Regions from separate parts of the Homo sapiens genome. Here region 1 is linked to region 2. The links come from fine-mapping of genetic effects on gene expression. Tissue or cell type: sigmoid colon. Region 2 holds a variant in brackets; the other region holds the start of a gene. All regions are shown on one strand. Distances are from middle to middle.

Region 1 (5,142 bases), 75 kb after region 2:
GATTCACCATCCACCCTGTCTGTTCTCCAAGCGTATCATATTGTCTTCAAAGGCAATCCTCTGGGGTACTTATTGGTATGAGGAAAAAACACCAGAGAATGCCATGTAGTTACACAGCCTAACATGACGACAGTTAACATTTGCTGAACACCTGCTATGTAACCCAGCAGTGTGTGAGGTGCTTTATAAACATTAGTAATAATACATAATGAAGCTAACATTTTCAAAACAGCATGTCTCAGATTAAGACACGAATACTCTCCAGTTAACACAAGAAAACTGAGAGATTAAATAACTTGCTCAAGGTTATGCAGCATGATACAAAACAAGAGAGAGAGAAACAGTGCTGTCTGCAGCTATGACAGGTGTTCAGCAAGGGCCCTGTCCTCACTATTCCCAGAACCAGGACAGGAGCAGAGTGTTGCAGTCAGTCATTCACAGGACATAGTTTAGATTTCAACTAATCAAGAGACAGACTAACATAAACTATGTCTTCTGCTTTTGCCCACTAGGAGAAAGATTAGGCTGCCTTTCCGCTCTCCCACAGTGTGTTCTTGGGCAGACACTGGCTGGCTGGCAAGATATGGCCTCATGCAGACTAAACCTGAACTCTGAACCTCTTGGGGCCAATAAAGAGGGAAAATCAGACCTGGCAACTCTTGGATCACATGTTCTACAAGATTCCCAACAGGCTTAAACTCTGGTTTAACCTAAACATGCCCTGGGCCTTTGCACATTGCAACACCCTGAGTTTTCTCATTCGTCTTTGGCAAGTTTTTACTGCTATGATAGAGATGATGGGAACTACTGGGGAGTAAGAGGAAAGAAGAGGTCTCCTGTGTGCAAAGAACACAGAACAAAGAACTAACTATAGGGTTAGTGGTTTAGAGAGGTAGGTGGCCAGAGACAGGAAGGAAAGTCCCAGTATGGGACACGGAGGTACAGAAATAAAGACACTCTGCTGATGGGACTTCCTGATAAAATTCTATTTGCATGATGTATGGAGAATTCCCCTGGATGGCCTGAGAGAGCCCCAGGGAAGACAGGAAAAACCTGACCTAGCAACAGACCAGATTCTGAGAACAGATCTGTAGTTTTCTAAACACCCTACATTGATCCAAACGCTATGGTCTCGCATCTCTCCAGAAAGAGGGCGGCCAAAAGCAAGAGCTAGCTGTTGTTTCACTACAACTATAACATGCCAAGGCACAAACAGCAGATTGTGGGACCCCCCCCCCTTTTTTTTTGGAGACGGAGTCTCGCTCTGTCGCCCAGGCTGGAGTGCAGTGACACGATCTCGGCTCACTGCAACCTCCACCTCCTGGGTTCAAGTGATTCTTCTGCCTCAGCCTCCTGAGTAGCTGGGACTACAGGCATGTGCTACCGCGCCCAGCTAATTTTTTTTTTTTTTTTTTGTATTTTTAGTAGAGACGAGATTTCACCATATTGGCCAGGCTGGTCTCAAAACTCCTGACATGACGATCCACCTGCCTTGGCGGATCGGTGGCCTGGCCACCGCGCCAGGCCAAGTTCAGGTTTTTAAAAGGGGTCCCACATCACTGCCTGTAATCCCAGCACTTTGGGAGGCCGAGGCGGGCAGATCACGAGGTCAGGAGATCGAGACCATCCTGGCTAACACGGTGAAACCCCGTCTCTACTAAAAAATACAAAAAATTAGCCAGGCGTGGTGGCAGGCGCCTGTAGTCCCAGCTACTCGGGAGGTTGAGGCAGGAGAATGGCGTGAACCCGCGAGGCGGAGCTTGCAGTGAGCCGAGATCGCGCCACTGCACTCCAGCCTGGGCGACAGAGCGAGACTCCGTCTCAAAATAAAAATAAAAATAAAAATAAAAACCTGAACTCACTTTGGTCACACACTGCAGTGGATCGCATTGACTCCTACAAAAGGCAATGAGACCACTGCAGGACTAACTGTTCCAAAAAGATTCCCTCAAAATCTGTCCTGGGGCCTATAATTCCTCAAGGTGTGAAAGGCTTTGGGGGCCCTCCTTAAAATGCTAATAGCTACTAACACCTTAGAAAATTTGCCAGCCAGCTAAACGTAAACCTTTCAGGAACTTCCAGGCAGACACCATGGGGGTAATGTGGAAGGGAAGCCTGGCTCGGCTACTCGAGATGATCACTTGGGTCGGCTTTAAGGAGCTTTCTGGCTGGCCCTAACCAACACTGTCGCGCCGGGAGCAGGGATCCCCTGGCGCCCTTCAGTCAGGGCGCTGGCCCACCCTGGGGCAGCAACGCACTCCCTTACCTCCGTGGTTCAGTCAGAGCTAGGAAGGTCCCTTTGTGCTTCCTGAGATCAACATCGCTCCCTTTTCCTGGGAAGGCAAAGAAAATGAGTTAGGGAAGCGTCTATCCCGCTCCTACCTCCTCGCCAGGCTCCGGGACGCTATGCGCTATCAGCATTGAGGTGAAGAGGACTAGGTGCCCGGGGCGATCCAGGCTCGTGTCCTCCCGCTGGAGTTTGAGGTTTGCCCTTCCCTCATCACCCTCACCCTCGTTCTTTCTCGGTTTCCCGCTTCCCTCTACGCGGCGGAGACCACCACCTTACCGCTCGCACTTAAGATCTCAGACCCACGCCGGAGGCCGGCTCGCTCCGCCCCTCCCCGCCCCCTTGTCCCCGCCCCGGCTCAGACGCCGCTCCCCGGTGCCTCTCGGCACCGGCTCACGCTCTCCAGGCCCACCTGCCCGGTCTCCACACGTGGGTAGCCAGAGCCCGGCCGAGAGCCCTGGCCGGGAGCCCGCGGGGGCCCCGCCCCCTGCCCGCCCCCTGCCCGCCCCGCTCGCCGTGCCGCCATGTTTACTGAGGGCGGATGGAGGGGCCCGAGTTTCTGCGAAGCCGCGACCTCGGCGTCCGGACGCGGGGAACACCGGGCTGAGGGAGTCTGCAGTCGGCTCCGGGAAGCCGCGCGGCGACGGGGGAGGCCTTCACTAAAGGGGAAAAGGAAGAGGGGGTCGGCCAGTATCCCCGAAAGAGGGCTAGGGCGCATGAAGACCAGCGCAGAGCTCCACGAGCAGGAAAAGCCCCCAAGCAGCCCCAGGGCGACTGGACCGGGCCGCTTAGGCCACGCCCGGGGAAGAGGGCCTGACGCGCTGCGGGGCGGGGCCGCGGGGCCGGGTCGCGCGAGCAGCGGAGCACCAAGGGAACGGAAAATGGCGCCTCACGACCCGGGTAGTCTTACGACCCTGGTGCCCTGGGCTGCCGCCCTGCTCCTCGCTCTGGGCGTGGAAAGGGCTCTGGCGCTACCCGAGGTACAGAAGCAAGTTTGAGGTCGGGCTGAAGCAGGGTCGCTGGCCAGCCGTGCGTCGCGCTCGCCAGCGGCTCCCCCTTCTCCTCGGCGGGCCTGCGGTTCTGATTTCGTCCCTGACGCTTCCCGACCCTGCCCAGCCAGGTCCTGTTCCCAAGTACTCACGTCGTGCAGGCCTTCGGCGCCCCAGTCCTGCCGACTTTCAAAGACCTGTGAAACTTGATTTCGCCCCTTAATTTTAGAATAACTTTAAGTTCTTTCTACAGACGGGTCCTCTGCCTCTTGTGTAATCTCTCTACGCACGAACGCCATATATCGTGCGGTGGTAGGGCTGTACTTTTGTAATGCTTGATGAGTTCTTTACGTACCTGCGGTCGTTTTACACCGCGCCAAACTAGGGCTGTCAGATTGAGAAGTCTCTGCAGAAAGCATAATAAATAAGTTCGAATAGTGATCTTCAGAGATGAGGACCTTCCCTGTGCGATATCTGGTACTGAAAGTGTCGGGAGCTGATTCGGCGCAGGACTCTGGAGGAAGAGATGGCATCTCCTAGCCTAGCCTGTTACAAGGGTGGGACACGAGCCGTTTATCCATTTATCGGCCCCGTGTTAGAGGAATTCTGGAAACGTGTACTGGCAGTTAATTCTTGATCGCCGTTTGTTCTTTTCTTGGCTTTTCTTTCTGGAGTTCTAATGTTTCTTTCTCTTCTGCAGATATGCACCCAATGTCCAGGGAGCGTGCAAAATTTGTCAAAAGTGGCCTTTTATTGTAAAACGACACGAGAGCTAATGCTGCATGCCCGTTGCTGCCTGAATCAGAAGGGCACCATCTTGGGGTGAGGGGAAGACATCCCTAGATGCTGGATACAGGCCATTCCTTAGCCTGGCTGCTTTTATACCCTTATATTATTTAAAGAATCCACCTATTATGGTTTCAGCTGTAATCATCACGCAGATGTCTACCAAAACTAGATCTCTTTAGTGTCTTTTTTAACCTTTCCACACTCCAGGTACATACGGGTACCTCTAGCTTCCTATTAAGCATTTCCTACTGAGTGCACCCTAACTTCAAACTCAAAATGTTATGTTTTGCTTCCATTCTCTTCTTTCCTTCATCTACCTAAATACTTCTCTGTATTAAGCTTTTAGAAAACCAACATTTTCCATTATCACTCTCTTGCTTTAATACTATATTTAGTATTAAATTTTGTCTCAGGACAAAATTCAAACCATTAAGTACCATACTAGTCCCAACCCACTTTTCCAACATTATTTCCAATTACTTGTCCGCTCAAACCTCCATAATGGTCTGCACCAGCCAGATTTGCCTGCCCTCAAAGGCATTCCACCTTTGTTCAGGCCTCTCTCCATACCTGAAATTGCCTTCCTCTACCAAATTAGGAAATATCCATCCTTCAATTCCAACATCTTTTGTGAATATTTACTACTACTAAGTTCCAGAGTAATACCTTTTTTAAATTATTATTTATTTATTTTTTTGAGACGGAGTTTCACTCTTGTTGCCCAGGCTGGAATGCAATGGCATGATCTCGGCTCACCGCGCCCTCCACCTCCTGGGTTCAAGCGATTCAGTAATACCTTTTTTAAAAACTTCCTGTAATCTTTAGTGTCCACTCAAATATATTTATACACTGTCCTGTGGTTTCTTTTATATTGTAATTTAATGTTTACAGTGCTTTTATTTTTGGGCAGTGCTCTTGTTCCTCTAACTACATTGTAAGCCACTCAAAGGCCAAAATACTGTGTTACATATTTTTAACATTCTCCCAGTGTTTGCAGTTTGTAGGGACTCAGTAAATATTTGTAGAATAAAGGAATGGATAGCAGTAGATATTGAAGAAAAAAATAACGTGGCATGA
Region 2 (5,142 bases):
CTGATGTCTTACCCCTTTGCTTTCTGCACGTTCTAGTTCACAAGGGTTTCTCGAGTCTTTTTTCTCTCATTTGGGCCTCACAAATCTACACAGTGAGCAGGACTGGGATTATTACCTCTATTTTACAGAACAGGGTGAAGCTCAGGAGAGGGAAGGAACTTAGCCTAAACCCAAATGCACCACTCTCGCCGCTGCTAGAGGGCAGGCAAGACCTCCCGGAAAAGGCCAGTATAAGACCCCTGGAGCTGCTCTGAGGCGGAGCTGAAGCGTTCCTGGCGACTCTGCAGCTGTGTGCAGTTTTCACTTTACCTTAAAAGCCTCTCCTCCGCCCGCTGAGTTCTCGACTGAAATTCGCCCCTGGGCGTCAGGCAAGCGGGTCTTCCCAACAGAAGTGGGCAGGGCCCGAAGCTGGAGTGTGGCCCGCCCCGCGACCCCCCGGCCACCCTGGAATCGCCGCCAGCCCGCAGCAAGACCCAGCCCCAGTGGCCCTGCGCTCTCACCACGCCATTCTTTATGCCTGTCTTGGCGGCGCCTCCTCCGCCCGCAGCGATGAGCAGCCCAGTGCTGGGGTCGACCTGAAGCGCGTACAACGGGAACGGAGCCCGGTACAGCTCTGGCGCCCGGCGCCGGCCCATCCCGCCCGGCGCGCGTTCACTGCCCGCACCGCGGCACCCAGGACATGCCGCGCCGGGCCTTCGACTACTGCCCCGGCGGCTGGTGAACTCGGCCCCGTCGCCGCCGGGAGCACTCCCTACCCCTCTCACACCGGGGAGTTGCCAAAACCCTGACCATCAGCAGGAAGCCGAGCCTCAGCTCGGCTCCGTCCAAGTCGGTCTCGCAGACGCGCACTGCGCATGCGCACCTGTCTCGCGGCTCCCTCCGCGCAGGCGCAGGAGCGCCGACACGCGTCAGCACTAGCCGGCCGCGGGGCCGCGTTTCCCGGGGCGGGGCTTCGGTTCTCCACCCCTGGCGCGGAGGCAGAGTCGCCCAGCACCGACTTCGCCATTTTTGTGCGGGGCGCGGGGCGCGGGCGGAGGAGGTGGAGCCAATGGAGGTTGATGAAGGTCAACCTTTAATAAAGAAATCCGACTCGCGCCTGTAATCCCAGCACTTTGTGAGTCCTAGGCGGGCGGATCAGGAGTTCGAGACCAGCCTGACCAACATGGAGAAACCCCGTCTCTACCAAAAATACAAAGGGCGTGGTGGCGTGCGCCTGTAATCCCAGCTACTCGGGAGCCTGAGGCAGGAGAATCACTTGAACCTGGGAAGTAGAGGTTGCAGTGAGCCGAGATCGCGCCATTGCCATTGCTCTTCAGCCTGGGCAACAAGCAACAAGAGTGAAACTCCGTCTCAAAAAAAAAAAAATCCTCTGCCAGGCACGGTGGTTCATGCCTGTAATCCTCCTGTAATCCCAACACTTTCGGAAAGTCCGAGAGAGGAGGATGGCTTGAGCCCAGGCTTTCGAGACAGCCTGGGCAACATGGGGATCCGTCCCTACGAAATATTTAAAAATTAGCCAAACATCGTGGCACCTGTGGGCCCAGGTGCCCAGGAGGCTCAGGCGGGAGGATCACTTGAGACTGGGAGGTCGAGGCTGCGCTGGACCACCAGTGATGTCACCACTGCACTCCAGCCCCTGGGCAACAGAGCTAGACCCTGTCTCTCACACACATAAAATCCTCAAATAAGGACTGTTCCCATCTGAGGAGTGATATGCCAACTCCTAGGAGCACAGGCCTTTGCATCTTACCTCAGAGAGGAAGTGATTTGCCCGAGGGCACACACCAGAAACCACCGGAGTCTCTTGCTTCTTAACGGAGGCAGCATGAACTTAAAAATAAACCTGACTTCAAATGCTGAATCCATTGCTTCCTCGTATGAGGACACGTCTGTCATCCTTAACGCCTATCGCCCACTTTTGGCAGGGGTGGTGTCTGCCATTCCCTTTCTCAAGGCTTCACACTCCTGGGCTGGTGGCTTGGTGGGTGGCCAGCTGCTTTGCTGGCCTCAGAGGGGGCAGTTTGGCTCCCGGGCAGGTATCTTCTGCGCCTGACACTCCATTCTCCCTCGGGTTTCTGATCTGATGAGGACCTTTGTGCACTCCTGAGAGCGAGCACAAGGGATGTCCTTCCCTGCAAAGAGACGCCCTCTCCTGCATTCTCATTAACCTAAGGTGCACCCAGAGGAATAGCGCAGTGGCTTCATCTTTGGGGATGCCAATATCTGTCCCACAGAGTTGAATTAGATGTGTGAAGGGCCTGGCCAAGCTCTCTGCATATCTCAAGTCCCCAGGCCTTGTGGGTCCCTTGTCCTCCTTGGATACATGGCACCTGCTCTTTCTGGCCTCTCCGTTTCCTTTGACACCACCCTCCAGGGTCTTTTTTATTTTTTGAGACGGAGTCTCGCTCTGTTGCCCAGTCTGGAGTGCAGTGGCCTGATCTCAGCTCACTGCACCCTCCACCTCCCAGGTTGAAGTGATTCTCCTGCCTCAGCCTCCTGAGTAGCTGGAACTACAGGCACCCGCCACCACACCCAGCTAATTTTTGTATTTTTAGTAGAGATGGAGTTTCACCATGTTGGCCAGGCTGGTCTCGTAACTCCTGACCTTAAATGATATGCCCACCTTGGCCTCCCAAAGTGCTGGGATTATAGGCATGAGCAACCACACCATGCCCTCTTTTTTTTTTTTTTTTTTTTGAGATAGGGTCTCTGTCACCCAGGCTGGAGTGCAATGGCATGATATAGCTCATTGCAACCTTGAACTCCTGGACTCAAGTGATCCTCCCACTTTAGCCTCTTGAGTAGCTGGTAGTACAGGCACGCGCCACCATACTCAGCTAATTTTTTTATATTTTTGTTTTTGGAGAGACAGGGTCTTGCTATGTTGCCCAGGCTGGTCTCAAACTCGTGGCTTCAAGTGATCCTCCTACCTCAGCCTTCCAGTGT[G/T]TTGGGATTATAGGCATGAACCACCCCCTCCCCGCCACCAAGGGTCTTGTTAGGGACTGGCACCCCTATAGTTACAGCCACCTATTCTGTGGACTCAGCAGGACGCAAACACAAGTTTCACAGGGTCAGACTTTATTAGATACACGGAGGGCTGAATGGGGCCTTGGTGCCCTTGGTCCTCTTCAGCCTGGAGACAGCAGACTCCACAAGGGGCTCCCAGGGTTCAGAGCAGGAGAACACACCTGACCTCCGGCCAGCCAGCCCTTCAGGGTGTCTCGGGGACTCCCCGAGATCTGGGGCCTGGTTGGGAGGGTTGGGTTTGGAGGGGGTGTTCCAGGGGGCCTCCGTGGCTCTGGAACTAGACTGATGACTTTTGGAGAATGAGCTCCAGAGAAACTGGCCTCTTTGGGCCAGGGCAAGGCCTGGGCTTCAGGGAGGTAGTGACCTGTTTTGGTGCCCGAGGTGGAGGCCCGGAGAAACATCGTGGGGAGTTTGGTGATTGAAGGCCTGCAGACCTGAAGCTCCTGGTCTGGGAGGGTGTGCCTGGGACTGGGTCGGCCCGGGCCTGAGCTGCTGGAGGCTGAGATGCTGGCAATTGATGCCCACAGGCCTGAGTAGCCTTGCCCTGAGGCCCTGCTTCCTTCGGCCTTTTCTCGGGCAGCAGATGCAAGGCCCTGGCCTGGCCCTGAGGCAGGCGGAGGCCGAAGCCGATGCCTATCCGGAGTGGCCCAGATTCCTGGCCCTGCACACAGGGCAGTAGTTGAGGGAAAGCAAGCAGCCGGGGTCCAGTCCTGTACCTGGGGAGGGGGCAGGAGGGGCTGCGGGGCCGGAGGCACACCAGGCATATAGGATACTCCACGACTGGGGCCTGGCCGGTTCTGCCTAGCCACAGGTGCTGCAAAAGCAGTAGCCGCAGGTCGTGTGCGATGCGGCGGTGCCCCAGCTGGACCACCAGGGCCTGGGCCAGGGCCCCTGGGTCCCTGAACTGTGCAGGATCCTTCTCGCTTGGCACGCATCTCTCCACCACTCCAGGGGACCCGGACCCAGTGTCCCTGTACTGATGCCAGCGCCATGTCTGCCTGTTAGAGTGGAGCCTATGAGAAGGTGGGCTGGGGCCTGGGGAAGTGAGTGTGGAGCTATGCAGTTCCTCGGGGTGGGAAGGGGACTGGCAAGGTGAGTGGGGAAGGGAGGAGTTCTGAGGCTGGGAGGGAGAAAAGGAAGGGGTCAGAGGGGGAGAGGGGTACAGCCAGTGGTTGGAGGGAGAGGATGCACGTGGACGGGGGAGAGAGAGGTAGTTCTGGTGAAAGAAAGTAGGGGAACTTGGGAGAGAGGGAGAATAGGGATGTGGAGCAAAGTCAGAATTTGAGTCACAAGAGCCGAATTGGAAGCCAGGAGAGGGGGATGCTGGTGGAGGGGAGGAGGGACGACGGGACTGAGTGGAAGAGAACGGTGGTTGAGAGGGAGGGAGGCCCTGATGGGGAGAGAGAGGCTGTAGGTTGTGAGGAGAGGAGTCCACAAGTTGTGAGAAGCCCCAAGTGGGGCGCCCAGGGAGCACTGAGGTCTGTGGCAGCACCTGGTCCTTGTTTTGAGGCAACATCGCCTTGAATCCAGAAGGAACTGGGGCAACAAGACTAGGGATAAGAGACCTGGCAGAGTCAGGACCAGTATCTCTGAGGTCAGCTGTGCCTGAGAAATCAAGGCCACCTTCTGTGCGCAGAGCGTGGCTCCAGCCTGGTGTGGGTGCAGGTGCTGGTGGCAGGCCAAGGGGATACCCAGCCCTCCAGCACCAGGCTCTCAGGGTGTTCAGGCATGAGCATGAATCTAAGCTTGGCTTCTCACTTCTTTGCAGTCAACCATTGATGAGGGATGTGTGGGGATGGAGAATCACAGCTGCATCTTGGGAGTGGAGGGGCAGCAGCGATTATCTGGGTGGGGCAGAGAGGAAGACAAAGCCCATAGGACCTGGAGAGAAAAGAGAGAACCCAAGACATTGGGAGAATTGGTCCATTTCTGGCTCTGCCTCATATCCCCAGTTCCAAGCTGAACTCACCAAGACTTTAAATCCATGTCACCTTTGGGATCAAAAGAACTGGCAAAATGCTCCAGGGAAGGTGAGAAGTGGGGAGGAGAGGAATAAGGAGGAAGGGAGGGTAGGATGGAGTTGGAGGAGGGGTTCGGGGGATAAGGGCTGAGATG

What was found. PIP is the estimated chance that this variant, and not a neighbour inherited with it, causes the effect.
Region 1: SLC5A6 starts here. The variant in region 2 is fine-mapped to the expression of SLC5A6 in sigmoid colon (GTEx, PIP 0.95).

Annotation. Positions count from the first base shown.
Region 1 is chr2:27,209,201-27,214,342 of GRCh38, forward strand. It overlaps SLC5A6 (solute carrier family 5 member 6), which reads right to left and starts at 3,068. Exons shown (of 17, transcript NM_021095.4): 1 at 2,820-3,068; 2 at 2,267-2,333. ATRAID (all-trans retinoic acid induced differentiation factor) reads left to right here and starts at 2,841. Exons shown (of 7, transcript NM_001170795.4): 1 at 2,841-3,267; 2 at 3,977-4,098. The coding sequence starts at 3,169. RefSeq lists enhancers at 911-970, 925-1,722 and silencers at 2,505-2,824, 3,015-3,264.
Region 2 is chr2:27,133,787-27,138,928 of GRCh38, forward strand. PREB (prolactin regulatory element binding) reads right to left here and starts at 850. Exons shown (of 9, transcript NM_013388.6): 1 at 501-850. The coding sequence starts at 635. PRR30 (proline rich 30) reads right to left here. Exons shown (of 3, transcript NM_178553.4): 3 at 3,062-4,908. The coding sequence starts at 4,543. The coding sequence ends at 3,305. RefSeq lists a silencer at 569-668 and enhancers at 607-1,263, 739-788. The variant G/T (reference allele first, on the strand shown) is at 2,947.